Homo sapiens: one gene and its partners. The protein of the gene in region 2 interacts with the protein of the main gene of each other region in a biochemical or structural test. Each region holds a gene or a part of one and is shown on either strand. Other genes may lie near its edges. The genes, in order: PRKCZ, MAPT, PRKCG, CAPN2, SRPK1, SYK and PKN1.

What was found.
Region 1: of the proteins of MAPT (region 2) and PRKCZ, one has a biochemical effect on the other in vitro, tested with the Homo sapiens proteins (one study listed by BioGRID).
Region 3: of the proteins of MAPT (region 2) and PRKCG, one has a biochemical effect on the other in vitro, tested with the Homo sapiens proteins (one study listed by BioGRID).
Region 4: of the proteins of MAPT (region 2) and CAPN2, one has a biochemical effect on the other in vitro, tested with the Homo sapiens proteins (one study listed by BioGRID).
Region 5: the proteins of MAPT (region 2) and SRPK1 form a complex in vitro, tested with the Homo sapiens proteins (one study listed by BioGRID).
Region 6: of the proteins of MAPT (region 2) and SYK, one has a biochemical effect on the other in vitro, tested with the Homo sapiens proteins (one study listed by BioGRID).
Region 7: of the proteins of MAPT (region 2) and PKN1, one has a biochemical effect on the other in vitro, tested with the Homo sapiens proteins (one study listed by BioGRID).

What each region holds. Positions count from the first base shown.
Region 1 is NC_000001.11:2,144,411-2,147,910, reverse strand, and holds part of PRKCZ (protein kinase C zeta type), read right to left. Parts: intron 2,525-3,500; exon of another isoform or gene 2,400-2,524; intron 1,885-2,399; coding exon 1,803-1,884; exon of another isoform or gene 1,606-1,802; intron 1-1,605. UniProt on the Homo sapiens protein: Calcium- and diacylglycerol-independent serine/threonine-protein kinase that functions in phosphatidylinositol 3-kinase (PI3K) pathway and mitogen-activated protein (MAP) kinase cascade, and is involved in NF-kappa-B activation, mitogenic signaling, cell proliferation, cell polarity, inflammatory response and maintenance of long-term potentiation (LTP).
Region 2 is NC_000017.11:45,897,554-45,901,053, reverse strand, and holds part of MAPT (microtubule-associated protein tau), read right to left. Parts: exon of another isoform or gene 2,256-3,500; intron 1-2,255. UniProt on the Homo sapiens protein: Promotes microtubule assembly and stability, and might be involved in the establishment and maintenance of neuronal polarity.
Region 3 is NC_000019.10:53,902,697-53,906,196, reverse strand, and holds part of PRKCG (protein kinase C gamma type), read right to left. Parts: intron 3,125-3,500; coding exon 3,044-3,124; intron 1,563-3,043; coding exon 1,455-1,562; intron 1-1,454. UniProt on the Homo sapiens protein: Calcium-activated, phospholipid- and diacylglycerol (DAG)-dependent serine/threonine-protein kinase that plays diverse roles in neuronal cells and eye tissues, such as regulation of the neuronal receptors GRIA4/GLUR4 and GRIN1/NMDAR1, modulation of receptors and neuronal functions related to sensitivity to opiates, pain and alcohol, mediation of synaptic function and cell survival after ischemia, and inhibition of gap junction activity after oxidative stress.
Region 4 is NC_000001.11:223,774,029-223,776,518, reverse strand, and holds the end of CAPN2 (calpain-2 catalytic subunit), read right to left. Parts: intron 2,252-2,490; exon of another isoform or gene 1,686-2,251; coding exon 1,662-1,685; 3' UTR 501-1,661; downstream 1-500. UniProt on the Homo sapiens protein: Calcium-regulated non-lysosomal thiol-protease which catalyzes limited proteolysis of substrates involved in cytoskeletal remodeling and signal transduction. Proteolytically cleaves MYOC at 'Arg-226'.
Region 5 is NC_000006.12:35,869,099-35,872,598, reverse strand, and holds part of SRPK1 (SRSF protein kinase 1), read left to right. Parts: coding exon 1-36; intron 37-1,639; coding exon 1,640-1,665; intron 1,666-2,104; coding exon 2,105-2,318; intron 2,319-2,697; coding exon 2,698-3,117; intron 3,118-3,488; coding exon 3,489-3,500. UniProt on the Homo sapiens protein: Serine/arginine-rich protein-specific kinase which specifically phosphorylates its substrates at serine residues located in regions rich in arginine/serine dipeptides, known as RS domains and is involved in the phosphorylation of SR splicing factors and the regulation of splicing.
Region 6 is NC_000009.12:90,878,319-90,881,818, reverse strand, and holds part of SYK (tyrosine-protein kinase SYK), read right to left. Parts: intron 3,056-3,500; coding exon 2,866-3,055; intron 1-2,865. UniProt on the Homo sapiens protein: Non-receptor tyrosine kinase which mediates signal transduction downstream of a variety of transmembrane receptors including classical immunoreceptors like the B-cell receptor (BCR).
Region 7 is NC_000019.10:14,450,306-14,453,805, reverse strand, and holds part of PKN1 (serine/threonine-protein kinase N1), read right to left. Parts: intron 3,489-3,500; coding exon 3,343-3,488; intron 2,911-3,342; coding exon 2,697-2,910; intron 1,978-2,696; coding exon 1,783-1,977; intron 1-1,782. UniProt on the Homo sapiens protein: PKC-related serine/threonine-protein kinase involved in various processes such as regulation of the intermediate filaments of the actin cytoskeleton, cell migration, tumor cell invasion and transcription regulation.

The DNA of each region.
Region 1 (3,500 bases), on a different chromosome or scaffold from region 2:
ACGGAAAGATGGAGAGGTCAGTGGACTACAGACAGATGGGTGGACAGGTCAGTGGACAACAGATAGATGGACAGATGGAGACGTCAGTGGACAATAGATGGATGGATAGATGGAGAGGTCAGTGGACAATGGATGGATAGATGGAGAGGTCAGTGGACAGTGGATGGATAGATGGAGAGGTCAGTGGACAACAGACAGATGGGTGGACAGGTCAGTGGACAACAGATAGATGGACAGATGGAGACGTCAGTGGACAATAGATGGATGGATAGATGGAGAGGTCAGTGGACAATAGCTGGATAGATGGAAAGGTCAGTGGACAATAGACGGAAAGATGGAGAGGTCAGTGGACAACAGACAGATGGGTGGAGAGGTCAGTGGACAACAGATAGATGAACAGATGGAGACGTCAGTGGACAACAGATGTGTGGATAGATGGAGACGTCAGTGGACAAGATAGATGGATAGATGGAGAGGTCAGTGGACAACAGATAGATGGAAGGAGAGGTCAGTGAACAATAGATGGATAGATAGAGAGGTCAGTGGACAATAGATGGATAGATGGAGAGGTCAGTGGACAACAGATGGAAAGATGGAGAGGTCAGTGGACAACAGATAGATGGGTGGAGAGGTCAGTGGACAACAGACAGATGGATAGATGGAGACGTCAGTGGACAAAAGATGGATGGATAGATGGAGAGGTCAGTGGACAATAGACGGTTGGATGGAGAGGTCAGTGGACAATAGACGGATAGACGGAGAGGTCAGTGGACAATAGATGGATAGATGGAGAGGTCAGTGGACAATAGATACATGGATAGATGGAGAGGTCAGTGGACAACAGATGAACGAATGGAAGATAGCTGGAGGATGGGTGGGTGGAGGATGGCTGGCTGGCTGGCTGGATGACGAGATGGATGGATCGTGGATAGATGGATAGGTGGTGGATGGATGGAGAATGGGCGGGTGGAGGATGGCTGGTTGGCTGGATGAGGGCTGGTTGGTTGGCTAGGTGGGTGAATGGATGATGTACGGATGAATATCTGTATAGAGGATAGGTGGGTGGAGGAGCAGGTGGGCAGGCAGTTGTTTGTGAGGCATCTCTTTTGCGTGAGGCACTGTGTGAACTAAGTGCTTTATGTTCTGTGGTCTCATAAGTGCTTTATGTTCTGTGGTCTCCCAATGAGACAGAACTCACATGCATCAAGTGAAAGTGAGGCTCTCACACCCCCGTGCAGAGGTGCAGGTGTGGAGGCTCAAACCTGGGCTGTAAGTCCAACTGGTGTTTGAGATCTCTCTCTGAATGCTTCTTAGCAATAAAACAAGTCCTTCCCCACAACAAACAAAACCTCACAAAAATCCAAGGACCATGCCACTGCCACGCTGTGTGTGCAGCAGCCACCTCGCCAGGCTTTCCCCAGATAGGGCTCAGCTCTGTGCAGCAGCCAGATTGTGGGAGGTGCCCGGCCATGGTGGCTGCTGCACTAAGTGCCTTCGAGAACTCCCGGAGCTGGTTAGAGGAAGAGGCTCTGCACCCCTGGGCAACCACAACAGCACTTCACGGAGGCATCCCTGCCCAGCAGCCTCCAGGGAGGGCCAGCTCACCCTGCTCATCTCTGCCGGGGATTGAGAGGAGGCCCTGGAGAGCCTCATCCCCAGCCCCAGGGAAGGGTGGCCAGGCTTGAAGACAATGACCCCTGCAGAGCAGATGGGACTGAGAAAGGACTCGTGGCTAGAAGGCAGAGGTGAGCAGGGTGAGGTGATGCCCAGGCTCTACCCGGCCGGAAGAAAGCAGCGCCTACTTCCATCTGTCTCCTCGGAAGGAAGGTCGGCGTCCTCGTTCTTGTCGTCTACTGGAGGCTCTTGGGAAGGCATGACAGAATCCTGCCGGAGAGACACAGAGATGGCAGCATGACCAAGTGCTAGAGCAGGTGTTACAATGTAGCTTCTGTAAACACTTTGTGACTTTTTAAAATTAAGAACTTTTTTTTACAGACAGGGTCACAGTCTGTCATCATCCAGGCTGGAGAGCAGTGGCGCGATCACGGCTCACTGCAGCTTCAACCTCCTGAGCTCGAGCAATCCTCCCGCCTCAGCTTCCAGAGCAGCGGGCACTACAGGTGCGCACCACCATGCCTGGCTAATTTTTGTATTTTTTTTGTAGAGATGGGGTCTCACCATATTGCTCAGGCTGGTCTTGAACTCCTGGCCTCAAGTGATCTTCCCACCTTGGCCTCCCAAAGTGTTGGGATTACAGGTGTGAGCCTCTGCACCTGGCCACTTCAAGACTATTTATGATTTACATATTTACACATTACAATGGGTATACTGTAATATAGTATATAAAAATCTAATTGTTATGCTATTTTACTGAATTAGATAAAGAACATAAACATTACCTATGATTCTGCAGACGGAGGTGGCCACTCGGTACTGCAGGCCATGACCTTTCCACCAAGTGCTTTATACAACGGGATATTTTGCACAATGCTTGGTCATCTCCCCTGTCCCAAAGCTGCATCCTGTCAGTAACCAAGCATCAGGGGGCCATTCTAAGGGCCTCTGGGTTCCGCCTGCAGATATGTCATAATGGAGCCACCAGTACTGGTGGTCAGCTGGGTGGCAGGCTCTGGCCTCCCTCCGCCTCTAGCTGACCACATTTCTGGGGCCGGTCTCATTTGCTTACGCTAAAGTGGACCTATGAGGTCAAAGGGCATTACAGGCTTTTTGGCAGATGCAGCTGAAGGACCTCTGGAAGGACTGTGCCAACGCATGCACCAGCCTGCGTGGTCCCCCATCCCTGTGGCTGGTGATCCTGGGGTGACACCCTGATCCAGACTCTGTCTTTATCCCGTAACAGAGGAGAGGGCACGTCACTGCCACAGGCGCCTTTCCTCCCATGCCACAGCAAGATGCAGACAAGCCACCCTCCCCAGACACACCCACTGCACGCTGCAGCAGGGCCCAGGGAGTTGAATGTTCAGTCCAGGCCTCACCCCCGTGGTTCAGTGGGATGCAGGGGGCCACACGGAAATGCCAGAGGCAGCCTTCAATAAGCAAAAGTCAATAAGGCCCCCAAAGGCCTGGATGCTTCAAGTCCAAGCACTCGGGGATGGCGGAGGGAAGGTGCCGCCCTCATCACAGGCTGGGCATGGCTTCCCAGGGGGGATGCCAGGGAGAGGCTCCAGATGTTCGGAGCCTCAGCGTGCCCAATGCTACTAGGTCAGACCTGGCTTTCACCTCCACAGTCCTTAAGAGCTGGTTCAAGACTGGGGTATGAATGAACCTTACCTCCGACCCACTGAGCAGAGCGTACCACGTCCTACCTGAGCCTGCTGCCTGAGCCTCATGCCCCAATGAGCAGAGTGTGCCGGGGGCTTGTGGGGGCTCAGGAAGATGGGTCCTATCCAAGACTGCCGCCTGAGTCTCACGCTGCAGCCCAGAGCTAGGACGGCACCACGGCCCCTCTTGAAGAACCCAGGGTCACCAAGGTCTGCTTG
Region 2 (3,500 bases):
CTATCTTGATCCCTACTCAGTGTAACAATTTATCTGTACAACTGATTCCATCACCAGGATCTTTAGACCCCTCTGGTCATTCAGCCAATCACAAGCACTCATCCACAGGACACCGCCGATGATGCCATTTACTGAGCAGTTACTATGTGCTTGGCCCTAGTGAGTACCGGGTTAGCTTGTGTGAACCCCATGGCAACCCGTGAGACAGGTACCATCATACTCCAAGTTGTGGATGACAAAAAACTCTCCAAGCAGCTAAACAATATGGCTTAGGTCTCACAGTGAGCAGGGAGCTGGGATTTGTGCCCAGGAGGCCCGATCAGAGCCTACCTCCTTAACCATTAGGCCAAACTGCCTCCACATGCAGAACACTGCCCTGCACTGGGGACCTGGGGGAGGGTAACAGTGTCTGCCCTTGAGCTGCTCCCAAACCTTCCTTGAATAGCCTTGGCACAAAATGCATTTCTTGGGGACTCGCTGACATGGTGTTTGGATTTCTATCGGGTCCCTGATTGGGCTCAGCATGGAGCCTGATGAAATATGAAAAAAGCAAAGAAAATTAAGGGACTATACATGGAAGTTGTTCGAGTTTGTATTTTGCTGAAGCCCATTCTATCTGCATGCTTACAGAAAGTTTCCTAACTGGAGAACCCAGAAAGCTCAAAACCTGTCTCAAATTCCTCCTCACACTCAGTTGGGAGCCATCTGGGCAGGCAGGGAACCTGGCAGAGGTGGCAGGAGCATGGCACCTGGAGACAGGAAAGGAATTCTTGGACAGCAAACTCTTTGGCAAGGCAACAGGGGCGAGACAGAGGATTCTCAGGTAGCCCCAAGGTACCACAGTATAATGGAATACTTATTGCAAAGCCTGGGCCCCAGGAAGTGAGAAAAGCCTCCCAGGCCCATCTTTGCCAAAAGATTCTTACAAGAGGACTTGCCTATGCCCACCCAACTCAACCCACACCCACAATCTCAGAGCAGGCCTCATCAGTGGGCGCCAACGCTTTCACCTTGCCGAGGTACAGAACCTAAGCTGGGGATCTGATGTCCCTAAACCTCAGAGACTTGACCTTGGCCACACTGAATCTACGTCTTGATCCCCCAGTCTTGATTTCCAGCCTTCCCTGGGTCAATCAAACCAGCTGCCCCGTCATATGGCAGAGCAGTCCAGAAACCCTGGATTGGGGGAAGAGGTTTAAGGACCTTAGGAAGAGATATTTGCTCTTTGTTTTATAAACAGAGCACCAATGTAGAGTGAAATGCCTTGCTCTCTGTGTCGGGGCCAGATAAGAAATTGAGAGCTTTAACTCCACATCTCCCTAACCTTATTCTGGGTCATGCTCCGATTACAGACTCTTGTAAAAATTCATTTGTGAGACAGTGGTTTTGGAATCAATATTCTACTGGGTCAATGTTATAGATCATATCTGGGTTCCCAGACTAGTCCACAATGGCCAAGTAAACCCACATGTGGCTGAGAGGGGAGGGAACTAGTGTCAGGCAACCAGCTCCACCACCCACTGGCTCTGTGACCTTTAGCAAGTTACTAACCCTCTCTGTGCTTCAGTTTCCCCATCACGGAGATAATAACAGCACCTGCTACATAGCGGAAGTGTTGTGAGGATTAAATGAGATAATCTTAGCAAGCACTTAGAATAGGGCCTCCTAAAAGACACTCAATGAATGTAATTAAGATAGCAGTGCCAGTGTCAACCCCAGCAGTGGTGACATTGGGACTGGGTCATATTTTGATGTAGGAGACTGTCCTGTGCCTTCCTTGTAGGATGTTTAACAGCATTCCTGGCCTCTACCCACAAGATGTCAGTAGCACCCTCCCCGAGTTGTGAAAACAAAAACATCTCTCTAGACATCTCAGTGGCCCCCAGTTGAGAACCATGGTTTTACAGGAAAACAGCTGAGAGTCCCTGCTGGAACATGAGGACTCCTCTCCCTGCTGCAGCCCAGCTGGTGAGGCTGGGGTCTTCTCTTCCCGTCACCTGCTGAGGTGCCCCCCAAACGCCAGCTCCATGTCACTAGTGGAAGCACCTAACTCCTGGGCATGGCAAGTTAGGAGTGGCCAGGGGGGTGTTTCTGGGAGTGTGAGGGGGCTTTGGGGGTCTCTGAACACGGTGATGAGGAAAGTGGTGGTGGAGGAAAGAGCAGAGTCAAACGCAGTTTCCCACCTGCTTCCCACTGTATTTCCCCATTTATCCTTCATGGATAAAATCCATTTGGTATGGACCGAATACCTCTTGTATGTCTAGCACTGTATTAGGCCCCTACGGCTGTTTTTATTTGTTTTTGAGTGATTCTTTTTCAAGGAGGGAGTAAGGAAGATGCTAAATAAATACATCAATAGAAGGCAAGGTCCAGTTGGAAAATTATCACATGTCCAATTGGAAAAATAACACGTGTTCGTACATATAGCCACAGAGCTACTGAAACCACACACATAAATGCTGAGGGAAAGTGGAATAAAACAGTTTCTTTAAATTTTCAACAAATGGACTGTAACAACAGATGTTAAAAAGGCAGAAGGAAAACCACAATCTTATCCCATCTCCAGGCTGGCACCGACCTCCAAGGGCATGAGGGTCAAAGGGCACGTTTAATAGAAAGGCCACTTTTTCCAACCGGAATAAATCTAACCTTTCCTCAATCAAAGCGATTCTAAGTTTTCTAACAATTTATGGGCAGTATCCATTTCTTTTGTTCCTGTCGGAGGAGCAATGCCTGATATTAGAAACCACTTAAAAGTCACGCCCTTCCAGCAGGAACAGTCATGGACTGTCACTCATCCAAAACCCAGCAAAGCCAACAAGCCCCTTCCCCAAATCGTCCAAAGGTGAACCCAAGAGCCAAGCCAGGTTATTGCTATATAAACATCTGTTAGAGAAGCAAACTTGGCCAAGGAATGTATGAGCTTCAAGAGTCACTCCGGACCTGCGTAGCAGGGGTGGGGGCAGGGGATACACTTATCTGTTTATCCATTAATTTGTTTACGTAGAGGGAGGATTTGGAGATGCTTATACAGTAAATATAAGCAGCTTATACAGTAATTATAATACAATGCTTATACAGTAAATACAATGCTTATACAGTAAATATAAGCAGCCATCACAAAACACAAAATGACACCCCAGAATCAACCGCGGTAGGAAAGACATTTCCCTGTCTCCTGTAGGATGGGTCAGTTAAGGGGCCGAGGGGGATCAGATAGAACTCAAATTGGTCCTGCTGAGCCTGGAGCCTGAGCACGCAGAGGGGTGAGCTAGGCAGTCGCTGTCGGAGCCCCCATCATCCCTTCCAGCCTGGACCATTCTGAGACGGAGGTTTGGAGTTACAGGTGTGTGAGCGCCAGAGGGTGAGAGGGGTCACTCGCTCGGAATGTAAGAGCTCCCGCCTGCTGGGAATGGGGAGGAGTCGTCGATGGCCCCAGGATCCGTGCCCAGACATTTCCAGAGGCGCACCGGCTGGTTCAGCACCCCACCGTCATCCGC
Region 3 (3,500 bases), on a different chromosome or scaffold from region 2:
GGAGAGATAAGAACAGCCAGGGGAAACAGGCAAATGGAGGGAGGAAGGGAAAAGAAAGGAGAGAGAGAGAGAAGAAAAGAAGAAGAAGAAGAAGAAGAAGAAGAAGAAGAAGGAGGAGGAGGAGGAGGAGGAGGAGGAGGAGGAGGAGGAGGAGGGAGGAGGAGGAGGAGGGAGACAGACAGAGAGCGAGACAGAGAGAGACAGAGAGGAGAGAGAGAGGAAGAGGGACAGAGAGAGAGAGAGACAGAGGGTGAGAGTGAGTGAGAGAGAGAGAGAGAGAGACAGGAAGAAGGAGAGGATACATGAAAATGATAGCAGATGAAATTCATACCCAGAGACCCAGGGACACACAGAGAAACAGAACAAATCATGAGGGAGATGGAGAAGAGGAGAGGGAAAAGGGGTAGGGGGAGAGAGGGAAGGGGAGAGAGGGACGGGGAGAGGGAAGGGTAGGGGGAGGGAGGGAAGGGGAGAGTGAAGGACAGAGGGAGGTCGGTAGGGGGAGGGAGGGAAGGGTAGAGGAGATGAAGGGGAAGAGGGAGGGAATGGGGGAAGAGAGGTTGCAGACCCAGAGAAAAGGGGAAATAGAAATTCAGAGGGTGGTACAGAGACCCCAGGTAAGAAGGCAGAAACTCAGAGAAGGGAGGAGACAGAGGAGACCCAGGGGGACAGAGATTCAGAAAGAGAGAAGGATAGAGACCCAGGAAACACACACCCAGAGGGAGGAATAAAGACCAAATATGGGGACAGAGACCCAGAGAAAAGGGAGGACAGAAAGCCAGCAGGAGAGGAGGGTGAGATGTAGCGTGTGTGTATGAGAGTGGACACAGGAGGGGACAGAGATGGGGGGTAGGGGGGTTGGACAAAGGCCCAAAAGTGTAGACAGAGATGCAGAAGGAGACACAGAGAAAAGGAAGAAACACAGAGAGCCCCATCGTATGCAGATGGAGGGGAGGCATGAGACAGAAACCAGAGAGACTGTCAGGGAGATGCAGAGAGAGCAGCTAGACGCAGAAGGTGCTGACATGGGCTGAAAATCTGCTATGGGCCAGGTGCTTTCTTCTGTGTCAACTCCATAACCCCTGAAGAGAGTTAAGCTCACAAAGTTTTGGTGACTCACCCAAGTTCACACAGGAAGAAAAGCTGCAGAAGTTGGGTTTACCTGACCCACCCAGTTCTAGACAGACAGACACCCTGGACTTTCAGCACTTCCTGCAAGCAGGGAGCTGGGGAGTGGGAGTCACAGAGAAGGATGAGACAGAGGCCATCTCCAGGCCTCGTGGCAACAGGGCTGGAAATCATTGTTCTAACAAAACCTATGCATCATATCAACTTTTCCAACAGATGGAAGTAAAGTGACTTCAGGAATGGGAGCATTTTTCTAATAGGCACAGAGACAGCAATGGGGTGTGTGGTTGTGAGCCTGGAGAAGCTGGGAGTCAGGGGGCTCTCACCCCCTTGCAGATGGCCACGGCTTCCCGGGAAAGCGACTTGGGGTAGGTGACAGTTTGTTCCATGATGGCCTGAAACAGCTCCTCCTCGTCCTCCCCATCGAAGGGAGGCTATCAAAGTGGAGGGGATAGAGAGTCAGGGACATGCCCAACTGCCTTTCCCCAAACCTTCCACACCCTCCTCACCCCACCGGGAACATGCCTGACCCATCACACGCCCCACATGCACACCTGACCACACCCTCAGGAGAGATCAGACCAAACCACCAAAGCTTGATCTCTCTCCTTCTCAGGTTCTCTCATTTCCTATCTCGGATGCCTCAGATCTGTGCATCTCTGTACTATTCTGCCTCTCTTTATCTGCTATGTAAATCAGCAGGCTGTTAATTATGCAACATGTCAGTTAAATAGAAGAGAGGAAAAACTGCAGGAAACACCCTAAAAGCATTCTCCTGGTTGGATGAGTAGTTCACAGTCTTCTGAGGTTACAAAAAATGATACCAAGGCAAAGATTTAGAGATGGGGTTTCATCATATTGGCCAGGCTGGTCTCAAACTCCTGACCTCAAGTGATCTGCCCACTTCGGCCTCCCAAAGTGCTTGGATTACAGGCGTGAGCCACCATGTCCGGCCAAATTTTTTTTTAACTTCTAACTAAAATTTAGCATTCCCTTCAGTTATGAATGCAGGCAGCAGCAGTGCTTGTGGCTTCATTATCAATAGTAATCACAGGTATTTTCTCATCACATGAGAGTTGCAGATATTCCAAATTATTAGTCATTGCTACATCAAAATTACTGTTAGAGCTCCTTTTTACTTTACTACCATTAGAACTTACTACTTAATGAATTAATAAGAAATTGCACATATGTCCATTTTCCAATTTTAAATATTTAGACAACTGTATACATTGAATTTAGTTGGTTGTTAGATTCAATTAAATTTTAAAAGTTTTGGTGACTATCTTTCAAAATGATTGATTTCTTTTGTTTGTTTGTTCTTTTGAGATGGGGTCTTGCTCTGTCGCCTGTGCTGGAACACAGTGGCATACTCATAGTTCAGTGTAACCTTGAGTTCTTGGGCTCATGTGACCCTCCTGCCTCAGCCTCCCCAGTAGCTGGGACTATAGGTGCCCACTACCATAGCCAGCTAAGAAGATGATCAAGAGTGTGGTAACCAATTTTTTTAGTTGTAGTACACTCAGCAGTCCAGGAATCCAATCAAGCTGATTTAGAATGTATGTAATTGTCTAAGCTGACACAGCCAGTAAGTGGCAAAGTGAGGATTTGAACCTTGGTTTTCTGCGTATGTATTATTCTATTTTGTGCATTGAAAAACATTCTTCTGAGAAGGGATCCATAGGCTTAACCAGACTGCTACTTTACCATCTAGGGAGAAAGAATCCATGGTAACAGAACAAACAAAACAAAACAAAACAAAACACCTGGTCTACATTAAGACAACACTTCAGAACCATGGACAGCGCTATTCGAGCACAACCTTCTGGGCTCCTTTCTAACTGGCTCCTCCTGAGATCCAGGTGCCCCTCTCTGTCTCTTTTAGCCAAGCCAGCTTCTCCCCACCTTCCCTTACCTGTCCTGCCAACATCTCATACAGCAGAACTCCAAAGGACCACCAATCGACAGACTTCCCATAGGGCTGGTAGGCAATGATCTAGGGGAGGTGGAAGGCAGGGAATCATGATGCGTTCTTTAGGAAGCCTAGGACCCCTCTGGCCTCACCCCCTGGGAGCGCTACCCACGTTAAGTGCTTTCAGCACAAGCTCTTCCCACTCTGAATATTTATTTCATCAGGTGATTTTTTGTTTCGTTTTTTTTTTTTTTTTTTTTTTTTTTGACAGGGTCTCACTCTGTTGCCCAGGCTGGAGCACAGTAGTGTGATCACGGCTCACTCAGCCTCAACTTCCCAGGCTCAGGTAATTCTTCTACCTCAGCCTCCCAAGTAGGTGGGCTACAGGTGTGCACCACCACACCTGGCTAATTTTTGCACTTTTAGTGAAGATAGGTCCTCACTATGTTGCCCAGGCTGG
Region 4 (2,490 bases), on a different chromosome or scaffold from region 2:
GATCCTTCAGCTACCCTTCCCTTGCCCACCTCCAATCTTGAGTCAGTCCAAACATCTCCCACATCTTTCCTGCCACCTGTGCAGCTGGACAGAGAAATCACCGATGCGAGGAGGTTGGGACTCCTGCACTCTCATGGCCACCAGCCTCCCCTTTGCCCTCAAAATCCACTCAGCAAGCAAGAGAACTTCAACTCATTTGAGCCGAGTTTGGGAAATCCATTGTCTCACCTTGTTCAGGAAATATTAGGATGGCATTTGCCTATCATCTCAAGTCATCTTGAGGAAATGATTCATCAAGAACCACAAGCACCAGACCAGTGACTTCATCTGCATGTTTTCTCAGCTCCCTTGCTTGTACCTACCCCAGGAGGAGCTGGCCAAGGTCGAGCAGGGAACTTCCTGAGAGGCACATACGTCTCTGTGCTGCCTAACAGCAGATCAGCAAGCAGTAGAAATTAGAGCTTCCCTTATGTTATGGTCAGATTATCAAAGTTTCTGAATTGGATTTTAAAAAATTTTATAGTTCCACATTTTAATTATAGGCAAGGTGTCTTTTCCTTTGAATACATGAATTTACAGAGGCAGCATACCTTGTTAAAGTAGAAACAAGCTATAATTGTGTGCTCATAAACCGTCCTGTGGGGCTGCCCTCCAGGAAGGAAAACATGGCATGGTGTGATTGCATGGGGTAACCCTTTATTTTTATTTAACAGTACATTTGGAAGAAGATAAGGCAACAAGGCAAAATTTCTATAATGTTGCTAGCATTTTCCCAAGGTAAAGCCAGGAAACAAACTTGTGTCCTTTCTATAAGAACTTCTAAGTGATGTCCCCTCTAACTCCATGGACAGACACTAGTGGTGGTGAAGTTCATAAAGTTTTGAGGTGGCAAACAGCTTATTTTGTCCTTTATCATAATTGGTTTACAAATTGGATGCCTGGTTTTGGCATACTGGTTCAGTTGATCAAGCGCAGGATCCCTTTGGTCTTTGTAAGACCAGATGTATAAGGCCGAATAGGGTCAAGAACTTGATTGTAAGGAGAACGATTTACTATTACCAATCAATATTCTACAAAACCTGTCTCTTGTTTAACCCAAGCGACAGAGGTGAGTCTTCTCTCCTGGACTCTCCAGATGCCTTGACAAGATTACTTCATGATATACCATGTTTCCCAGTTGGCTCATGGGAAATGGTAATCTTGGACTGTTGTTTGGTAGAATCAACAGCTGCATTTTAAACTTGAAGTTGCTTTAAATATTCCCTGCCAAGGGCCTCGTGTCCTTTGAGAGCGACTCAATGTTTTTGCTCAGCTGTTAAATACCTCCCTGCATTTTTTTTTCCTGATTTAATATTGCTATGAACAGGAAAGTGTGTAAAAGTAAAAAGTGTATACTATTTACAGATTTAAAGCTTTCTTTGACCTTGTCAAGGGTTAAGCGACTCATTTGCATTTAGTATAATGATATGCAAATCTTTTACTTTGATGTGTGAAACTTCTGCTATCTCAAATTGACAGTATCATTATTTTCAGCTATGATCATCCGTTTAAGTAAATGTTCCCATAATTTTGAGGTCCAGATACAAAGTGTATTTCTATGGAAGCTTAGTCCTTGGCTGATTTTCCATCATGAGAAGTCTTCAGGCAGATTAGTTATAACTTCAAAGTACTGAGAAACAGAGCCACTGTGAGGAAGGAAAAAAAAAAGTCAGCTCAGTGACCACTTTTAAAATTAAAGGCTATTTAAGTACCTGTAGATTGTTCCAAAAAACTTGTACTGGAAAAGCTGATTGAGGGCTACAATATCAGTGCACTAACTCATATTTTTCTTACCTGATTTCTAGAGTCTAGCTTTTAACAGGTCAGTAGTCTGTGTGATTTGCATTAAGTGGCCATGAATCATATTACAGGGTTGATTGCACACATGAAAAGTGAAATTCACACAACAGAAATTAGCATTTTCACATCTCTGCCTCAGAGTATCACATCAGAAGTTAGTTTGGGATGTGGATATCCCTGCAACCAATGGTGTTCAGCATTGGTTCTAAGTTGTAGTGATACGGAAACTTTAAATCAGATTGATTCAACTGGTCTGGGATACAGACAGGACACCAGCACTTTGGCAAAGCTCCCCATGTGATGGAATCTGCAGCCAAGGTTGAAATCCCTGCAGACTGAACGGAGAGCTTCTGAACATGGCTCATCCTTGCAAAGACTACGAGAAGCGAGGATCTCCAGGAACCTGCAAAAGGTAAGGCTTAGGAGTGGCAGGAAAAGCCAGTGGGTAAGAAGATGCTTCTCGGAGGAGATGCGGAGGGAGTGGACTGAGCAGGCAGGCCAGGTGGACCCTGGAGTGGGGGTGGGTGGCTGGGGTAGAATAGGATATCCAGCAAGAATGACAGGCTAGGATTTCCAGAACTTAACATGTGGCATGTTTCGTGTCACAGTTGTGTTGACTCTACTATTTATTTCATTTTAAATTTTTTGAGA
Region 5 (3,500 bases), on a different chromosome or scaffold from region 2:
AGCGATCTGGAGCTCCTCCGCCTTCCGGATCTGCAGGTGTATTTTCTTTTAGGGACTTCGCTATCATTAGAAGTTAAAAAGAAATTTCTATTTTTATTCTGTTACCAGGGAATTAAACACCACTCAATCCATTTCAACAATAACATATTTAAGAAACATTATCAGCTTCCAAGAGACATTCTCACTGTTACTTCCATAGGGGAAGGAGAAAACTAGATATTGTGTCTTTGTGTTGTATGTTATAAAAGCTGGTGTGTATTGTTTAAAAATATTTTTTCTTATGAGTTGATGATTTTTGAAGTGTTTACCTCTAACTGTGATCACACATGCTCATTTATAGGACTGGTAGTCTGTAGAGGGACAAGATAACATTGCTATTAATAGTTTAGGTTTAAACACTGGAGTAGACAGACTTGGTTTGAATTTGGGCTTCATCCTAGACTGAGAAACCTTAGCTGAGTTATTTTACTTTATTTTCCCTCAACTGCGAATTATTGGGATTAAATGGTAAAGCAGTTAGTAGTGTGCCACACAATATTATATACCAAATAAATTGCGGGACCAGGCACAGTGGCTCATGCCTGTAACGCAACACTTTGGGAGGTTGAGGTGGGTGGATGATTTGGGCCCAGAAGTTTGAGACCAGCCTAGGCAACACAGTAAGACCCTGTCTCTACAAAAATTAAAAAAATTAGCCAGGCATAGTGATGCGTGCCTGTAGTCCATTTACTCAGGAGGCTGGGGCAGGATGATTGCTTGAGCCTAGGAAGTCAAGGCTGCCACGAGTTGTGATAGTACCACTGCACTCGAGCATAGGCAACAAAGTGAGACCCTGTCTAAGACATAAAATTAAATAAATAAATAAAGGCTGCTTTATGATTTTTTTTCTTTTGAGATACAGATTTTAGTTTTAGTAGTGTGTCATTTTTTAGGAACTTGCTTGATCCTCAAGTTGAGTTATTAGTTATACACTTCTTTAAAAAGGAAGACTAAAGAAGGGGGAAATGGGGAGTTGGTTGTTAAATGGATGTAGTTTCTGTTTTACAAGATGAAAACATTCTACAGATCCTGTTATACAACAGTGTGAATAGTGTTAAAACCACTGAATGTACACTTATCTAGAGTATAAATTTTTATTATGTGTTTTTTGTTAACCACAGTTATTATACTAATATTTTAAAAAGAGGAAGACTGAAGATCCTACCTTCCAGCTAAGCTACACTGTTATCCATGACATGCTGTAGAGCAAATTACTATAGCTCTTGATGTCACCTAGACTCCCCTTTTAAAACTGACAGATTCTGGGTAGCATTTGAGGTGAAGAGGTTGTTGCTTGTCCCATTCTATTTTAAGCAGTGCATGGGAATGGAAAATAGGTGATTTTTAGCAACTTTAGTTTACCTGGGGAGGAAGAATTTTATTTATCCCTTTTTTTTAAGTTTGGCAATTTCTATTCATTATTTTCTTTAAAAATGGTAATAATATAGCTTCTACTTAAGTCATTTAAAAACAATAGTTTTCTCTGCAATGTAGACTACATAAGAAAGACTTTTCATTCTGGTAGAGTGTTTTATCTGAGCCTTAGTTTATATTGCCTGATGAATGCCAGAATTCTTACTTGGTTTTCTTTTCTTTTCAGTCAGTACTGCTCCCCAGCCTAAACCAGTAAGTATAAGGTGTTTTTATATTTAATTTTGATCTATGGACTATGGGCATGGGTTCTTCTGTTGTGGATGGTAACAGTTTGTTTCAAGTTTGAGAACCAAAAGGAAAAAAAATTCCTGCGCTTCTATAATTTTCTCCAGTAAATTCCCATGCACCTTCATCACATTTGTACTGGTGAGGCCTCTAAAAAATTCGAGTTTGTCTGAATGTAAACCAACCCCACGGACTGCTCAGAAGACCACACTTTGTTATTTATTCTGTTTTTATTTGGGTTTATAAGAGTATCCCGCATCTTTTAATTTAATGAAAGACTTAAGTGCTATGTTAGGGAAAGATTTGTGAAATTTAATTAGGAAGTAATTAAAGTTAACAACTATCTCCAACTGGGGGTAATTAATTAGCCACCTGAAGGCTTTATCTGTTTGTAATCTCCGCCCAGGCTGACAAAATGTCAAAGAATAAGAAGAAGAAATTGAAGAAGAAGCAGAAGCGCCAGGCAGAATTACTAGAGAAGCGAATGCAGGAAATTGAGGAAATGGAGAAAGAGTCGGGCCCTGGGCAAAAAAGACCAAACAAGCAAGAAGAATCAGAGAGTCCTGTTGAAAGACCCTTGAAAGAGAACCCACCTAATAAAATGACCCAAGAAAAACTTGGTATAAATAGAACATCACGAAAATTACTGTACAACACACTTTAACGTTAATTTATCATTGCTATATAATACAGTGGTTTCATACATACAACACATCTCTGGGGGTATCTTTATAAGAATATGGATCTTGTCATAAATGTTAGGCAGGTAATATTTAAATGTAATTTGTAACTTTTCTCAGGAAATGGAACATAGATTTCATTTAACAATTGGGTAAAAGTAAGATCTTGGCCCTTCCGGAAATAGGTTTTAGATGTTTAGTCATGTTTTTATGTCACTCAGTATAAGTTCTAGAAAATGTTTTAATCTTGTGAGAAATGTTTCTGTTCTTTCACTCACACACATATGCATATATCTTTTTTTGTTCGTTTGTTCCTTAGAAGAGTCAAGTACCATTGGCCAGGATCAAACGCTTATGGAACGTGATACAGAGGGTGGTGCAGCAGAAATTAATTGCAATGGAGTGATTGAAGTCATTAATTATACTCAGAACAGTAATAATGAAACATTGAGACATAAAGAGGATCTACATAATGCTAATGACTGTGATGTCCAAAATTTGAATCAGGAATCTAGTTTCCTAAGCTCCCAAAATGGAGACAGCAGCACATCTCAAGAAACAGACTCTTGTACACCTATAACATCTGAGGTGTCAGACACCATGGTGTGCCAGTCTTCCTCAACTGTAGGTCAGTCATTCAGTGAACAACACATTAGCCAACTTCAAGAAAGCATTCGGGCAGAGATACCCTGTGAAGATGAACAAGAGCAAGAACATAACGGACCACTGGACAACAAAGGTACCTATGCAGCTATACTTCCTCAACACTCCTTCCCTGCACAACACATTCACAGATTTCTAGACTAAAAGTATGATTGTTTTTGTAACTATAGCTTTACAACAGGTGTGTCTAAGTTACGTTTAAATTGTAATCTGTAGCTAACTTTATCCATCATGTACTGAGTACACAGCACTTCATTTGTTGCTGTGAGGGCAGAGGTTTTTAATTCTGGAAACTCAAGGCGTTGCTGTGCTCTTTTTGTCTCAGAAAATGTAAGTTGTCACTTGGGTATTGCTGACTGTATTACTCTTACCTTGGAGAGCTTTATTACTCATTGAGTATTTCTCTGTTCATTGAACAGTCTTATTGATGATGCCTGTTGTCTGTAGGAAAATCCACGG
Region 6 (3,500 bases), on a different chromosome or scaffold from region 2:
AGAACACCTGTGTTTTTCAGTTGTGATGCTGCACAAATCTACCCTGTCACGCATGGTTTCCCGAGTGCCAGCGTTCGTTTGCTTCCACAGCTAGCACTTTTCTTTGATCTTGTTTCACTTTTTATTCCTTTTTTTTTTTGAGACAGAGTCTTGCTCTGTTGGCCAGGCTAGAGTGCAGTGGCACGATCTCAGCTCACTGCAACCTCCACCTCCCGGGCTCAAGCAATTCTCCTGCCTCAGCCACCAGAGTAGCTGGGATTACAGGTGCCTGCCACCATGCCTGGCTAATTTTTGTGTTTTTAGTAGAGACGGGATTTCACCATGTTGGCCAGGCTGGTCTCGAACTCCTGACCTCAGGTAATCCACCCACCTCAGCCTCCCAAAGTGCTGGGATTACAGGCGTGAGCCACCACGCCCGGCCCACTTTTTATTCTTTTCCATTTCACTTTGCTTTGTTTTCATACAGAAATCTTCCACTACCCTATCTTTTCGGTAGTTTTGTCTCTTTTTGCTGCTTCCAAGATGGCTTTTATTTCCCTAGTGGCTTTTTTTCTTCATTGATTGTCCAAAGACAATCTTTGGTTTACTTTTTAGTTTAGTTTACTTTTTAATGGTATGCTGTTTAATATCTACAGCAGTTTTAGAATTGGCCCCATGTTCTTTGACTCTTTGACACTTCTCCTCAAAAGGGTGGTTCTATCTATCCCATCCTTTGAAGCTGGTGGCCTTGGCTGCTCTGACCAATAGGATCAGGTGGAAGTGACCCTGAGGTAGTTTCTGGGCCTGGTTTTATAGGCCTGGCAGCCCCCACTTCCTGCCTCTTGGGTAACTGCTCTCAGCCCGCAGCTGCCATGCTGCCCAAGGGAAGCATGGGCCCAAGGGAAGCCCAAGGGCCCCAAGGAGAGGCCATGTGCAGGTGAGCTGGCTGACAGCCCCGCAGAGGTCTCCAGCATGGGCTGTGTCTAACCAGCTGCTCAGTGGCTGAGTAGTGTGAGTGAGCAGAGTGGAAACGGTCCTCCTGTCCCTCGGGCCACTGTGCAATCCCCTGTGTGAGCAGACGCACTGAACCCTGCCTACCTGGCCCTGCCCACACAGCAGGACGGCAGGGAAACCAACACCTGGTGGTGTTTTTGGCAGTAAGTTTGGGGTGATTTGTTATACAGCAGTGGATAAGGTGCCCAGCATTCATGTTTCATTTTCTCTATCTCCTCTGTGTCCTTGTTTCAGACAGGCTGTCTTCTTTTCTGTAATGATCATGATGAGGTACATCCAGCATTACAACAGGCTTCTTTCTCCAGCATGTCCCATGCTGGTCATCCTAGGCTGCTGTCTTCCTTGCTCTGTTTCCCTGCTATTTCTATCCAGGCCCATGCTGATGCCTTTCTCACAGTGGTTCACCTCTGAAGGGGCTTCCTTCTGGGAAGCTACTGTATGAAGAATGGGGTGAGGAGGGCCAGCCTGACCCCTGCTGTACTCTCGCCTGGCCTTTGTGCTCAAGATGGTGGAGTCTGCCTGCCTGCCTGGGAGCTTGGCTCTTGTGGCTTACCCTTCATGCAGTCCCTTTGCTGGCCGAGGTCCACCATTCCCCATCACCTACCAGTCCATGGACTGCCTCTTAGGGAAAGGTGAGTGGGTGGGTATTGTCACTCAGGGTGGGGTCTCTGACCACTGCAGGGCATGAAACACAGGATCCTATCTGCCACCCACTAGGTAGATTTTGAAGGTCTGCCATCTATTTCTGAGCATGTGGACTTCACCAGAGACTAGCAGGGTTGTTAACCTGCCTTCGGCACCCTCTTTGACTCAGTGGGATTGGTGCCATCACGTTTTCCAGTTGGTTAACATAGACCCTAGGTATACACCACAGATGAGTTAATATGAAGATAGAGCTTTCTTATCTTTTCTTCTTTTAGTTGTTATTGGTTCATTTGAGGGTTCAGAGAGGGGTCAAGTTATATTAGCAAGGGGATTGGTCACTGTGAAATTATTTTTTAGGAAGTCCAAACCTGCACCCAGAACTAGTTTCTACTTTATGTTTTGCTGGAAGTCCACCCTTAATTCTTGATAATCTCTGCCTCACCAAACCAAGGGGCATATTTCTTTTAGCTTCAGTCACATAACTATCTAGATCTCTTCTTTCCAGCACTGCATCTATTTTTTGACACTTCAACTCTTCTGGATACCAGTTAAGCCAATAGAACAATTTCTACATATGTAGTGGACATACACAGATGACGAGTTTATTTGGTAAATCTTCACTTTCTAACTTTTGCATGTATAGGTAGGTGTTCATTAGAAAGTTATTTTGGAATAGCTCCAAGCTGCAATATTGGAGCTCTGAACTGCAGTACTGGAGCTCCAAGCTCCAATAGCTCCATGCTGTGGGACAGTGTTCCACCACATGTTATGAAATGTCCTATCAGAAAAGGATGCCATGGATGAATCTGGTTTGAGAAATGCAGTGCAGTAAACCCTCTACTGAGATTCGTAATGTTAAGTAGCATGAAAAGGGCTTCGGGGAAATCCTGCAAGAATCAAGCTGTCCAATGCAAACTTTTCAAATTAACTTAATGAAGGAATCCCATTCTTCTTTTTTCAAAACAAATCTTCACTTAATACCTCGATTCCTGATCATTCCATGAAACATAATTTAGAATATACTACTTTGAGTAAATCTCAAGGTGTGATATTATTTTTATTTTTTAAACAGTAAAATCAAAGATTATAAGAACATATCTTACATAGTTATTTTTCAGTAGCAAAACTGCTTTTTGAAACCATACCAATAATAAAATAAAGAAAACGTACATTTATCTTGCATTTTTTACCACCTGCTGCTCTGAATATTAGCTAAGTTGTACTTACCTTGTAGTAGTTTTCATCAGCACGCAGTGCTTTGGAAAGTCCGAAATCACTGATCTTGGCGTAATGTTGGGTAACTAGCAACACATTTCTTGCAGCCAGATCTCTGTGCACAAAATTGCTCTCCTCCAAGTACTTCATGCCCATGGAAACCTGATGAACCAGTTCTATGATGTTCTTATCCTTGACATGTCTGAAAGTCATAATGATCTCATCAGCTATAACAGACAGTGACCCATTTCACAACAAACAACCATGCTCCTCACGCAGGCAGTGGGTGAATCTACTCCTTCCCTCTTCTTAAACAACAAAACTCACGAGTGGTGACAAATAACTTTGTTAGCATATAGCTCTTCAGGACTCAATGCCATATTCTCCTGGTGTTCAATGGGATTGAGTTTCCTGGCATGCTTGGAATTGCAAGAAAAGCAGTATAACAGAGTAGTCAGGCCTGGCTCACAGATAGCCAGGCACCACCTCAAATCCTTGTTCCAGTATCACACAGGTCACAGAACTAACCCTGAGAATCAGTTTCTCACCTACAAAGTCAGGGTAAGAACACCTCCCTTCCATGGAGACTAAAGAGACAATCTAAGTACAAACGTAGCACAGCAAATGAGGCAAGCTCCTCGGTGGCC
Region 7 (3,500 bases), on a different chromosome or scaffold from region 2:
TGCCTCAGCCTCCAGAGTAGCTGGGACTACAGGCGTGCACCACCACCAAGCCCGGTTAACTTTTGTATTTTTAGTAGAAATGGGGTTTCACCATGATGGCCAGGCTGGTCTTGAACTTCTGACCTCAGGTGATCCACCTACCTTGACCTCCCAAAGTGGTGGAATTACAGGTGTGAGCCATTGCGCCTGGACTGCTTACTCTGTTTTTACTTGTTTCAGGAACTGCCAATATTCCTTCCTCCCTCCCTCCCTCCCTCTCTCTCTCTTTCTTTCAGACAGAGTCTCGCTCTGTTGCCCAGGCTGGAGTGCAGTGGCTCGATCTAAGCTCACTGCAACTTCTGCCTCCTGGGTTCAAGCGATTCTCCTGCCTCAGCCTTCTGAGTAGCTGGGATTACAGACACACACCACCATGCCCAGCTAATTTTTGTATTTTTAGTAGAGACGGGGTTTTGCCATGATAGCCAGGCTGGTCTCGAACTCCTGACCTCAGGTGATCTGGCCCCCTCAGCCTCCCAAAGTGCTGGGATTACAGGTGTGAGCCACTGCACCCGGCCATGCCAATATATTTTCCATAGGGCTGCACCATTTTACATTCCCACCAACAGTGCACAAAGGTTCTGATTTCTCTCCACATCCTCACCAACACTTATTTTCTGTTTGTTTTGTTGGGTTTTTAAAATAGTATTAGTCATCCTAATGAATATGATATATTGGTTTCTTGTTTGGTTTTCCTTTCTTTTTAAATTTGTTTTATTTATTTATTATTATTATTATTATTTTGAGATGGAGTCTTGCTCTGTTGCACAGGCTGGAGTACGGTGGCACAATCGCGGCTCACTGCAACCTCCGCCTCCTGGGTTCAAGCAATTCTCTGCCTCAGCCTCCCGAGTAGCTGGGATTACAGGCACGCGCCGCCACGCCTGGCTAATTTTTTTGTATTTTTTGTAGAGATGGGGTTTCACCATGCTGGCCAGGCTGGTCTTGAACTCCTGACCTCGTGATCCACCCGCCTCGGCCTCCCCAAGTGCTGGGATTACAGGCGTGAGCCACCACGCCCAGCCTTTTTTTTAATCTAAATAAACTTGAAGTTTTTTTTCTTTTTTTTTAATTTAGAGACAGGGTCTCTCTGTCATCTAGGCTAGAGTGAAATGGCTCAATGATAGCTCACTGGGCTCAAGTGATCCTCCCACCTCTAGAACAGCTAGGACTACAGGTGTGGGCCACCACATCTGGCTAATTTTTACATTTTATTTTTTGTAGAGACAGGGTCTTGCTATGTTGCCCAGGCTGGTCTCAAACTCCTGGCCTCAAGTGATCCTCCTGTCTCAGCCTCCCAAAGTGCTGGGATTACAGGCATGAGCTGCTGCACCTGGCCTGTTTTTTTGTTTTTGTTGTTGTTTTCGTTCTCTTTTGAGGCAAAGTCTCACTCTGTCACCCAGGCTGGAGGGCAATGGCGTGATCATGGCTCACTGCAATTTCCACCTCCCGGGTTCAAGTAATTCTCCTGCCTAAGCCTCCCAAACAGCTGGGATTACAGGTGTGCACCACCATGCCCAGCTAAGTTGTATTTTTAAGTAGAGACAGTGTTTCACCATGTTGGCCAGGCTGGTCTCAAATTCCTGACCTCAAGTGATCCGTCCACCTTGGCTTCCCAAAGTGCTGGGATTACATGTGTGAGCCACCACACCCGACCCCTGGCTTATTTTTTAAAGGTTTACAAATATGGGGCATTCCAGGTCCCCAATGCCACCTCGTTTCTCAGGGCCCACGATGCCCACTCACTGGTGTTCTCGGCTTCTGCTTTGAGGCTGCTCCGGCCACTGAGGCTTCCGCTTCGGCTGTAAAGGCCCCGGGCTGGGCGGCTCAGGAAGGGGGGGCGGCTGTCTGGGGTCCCAGGTCCCCCCATTGAGGGGGTAGGGTTCCACGGGATGGTCTCTGGGAGGTCTCTGCAGCCCACCACTCGTACCTCCAGGGTCCCTGCAGGAGGGGAAAGCTCAGCAGGGGGCCACTTCTGGGGCAGGCTGAGCGGAGGGGACCACAGCGGGGAGGGGACACATCCAGACGCAGCCATGGTACAAGTGGGAGCCAGTGAGGGACAACCAGAATGGAGCATGGGGCATGAGGCCGGGATGTCCGTGCTGGGATAGGAGAATATGAGAGAAGCAGTCCTTCCAGGAGGGGCTCAGATGCGGGAGTTTAGGGGCAGAAGAGAGGCTCAGGGTACAGGCCGTAGGCTCAGGGTACAGGCCGTAGGCCCAGGCAAGCAGGAACAGGGTAGGACTAGGGGTTCTAGGGGAGGACTCGGTGGACAATCTGAGGTCTAAGATGGGCTAGGGGTCTACGGTGGGGCTGGTCTGGAGGGGTAGATGGCTGAGGGGTCTGTGGAAGGTGGGGCTGGCTGGTCTGCAGCAGGCGGGTAGGAGGCTCATGGCTGAGCGTTGTGAGGCCGAGGTGGGGCTGGGGAACAAGGGCTGGGAGAAAAATACTGGGCCAGGTGAAGAGAGATGGAGAAACTGAGGTGTGGGGGGGGTGGGCAAGAGCCCAGAATCAGAGGGCAAAGGAGGGGAGGAGACAGTGGTGGAATGGGAGTCCAGGGTTGGGGAGAGCGGAGATTGAAGTCGGGGGTCACAGGAATGGGGAAATGAGAGGAGTCGGAGGCCCAGGGCTGCAGGGGTGGGGTAGGGTCTCAGACCCACCTGTGAGCGGCGCGGGCTTGCACAGGGTGCTGTAGTGCGTGGCGGGAAAGGGCCCGGCCAGGCGGGTGCTGAAGGCAGCGGAGGAGGCCGCAGCGAGCTCTTCTCGCAGCAGCCGCCCCTTGGGGTGGTCGGCGGGCAGCTCCCCAAGTCTCCGCTCCAGAGCCTCCCGCAGCAGCCCCAGCTTCTGGTTGGATTCTGTTAATTTCTCCTGGGCCTGTGGTGGGAAGTGTGGGGGCTGGGGGCGGGACCAGGCTTGCCCCTTCCCAAGTGCAGGCCTAGGCCCCACCCCCAGGCTGAGTCTCACACTGAGCTCCTCCCTAGAGGGCTAAACCTCAAACCAACTTGGTCCCACCTCTGGGAAAACCAGGCCCCGCCCCTTGGAGAGGCCCCTCCCCTCACCGAGGGCCATTCCTGCCTGAAACCATGCCCCCTCGCTGAGGCCCCGCCCCTCACAGTTGCACTGTTCCTGCCTGATGCCCTGCCCCTCACAGTAGTCTACCCTGGCTGAGGCCCCACCCCTTATGAAGGTCCCACCCCCTTTGAGGCTCCACCCCTCACCGTGGGTGTTCCTGGTGAACTCCCCGCCGCTTGCTGAAGCACCGCCCCTTGCTGAAGCCCCGCCTCTAATGAAAGCTCCGCCCCTCACCTCGCTGACTGCCTTGCGGTCCGGGGCCTTGGCAGCGCTGAGCAGGCGCAGTACGTTCTTGGCACCCTCGGCCACCGCGTGCTCCACTCGGAAGTGGTGCCGCAGCTCTTCGATGCGCAGCTCCACAGCCCCCAGGTCAGGACTCCCTGTGAGCGTGG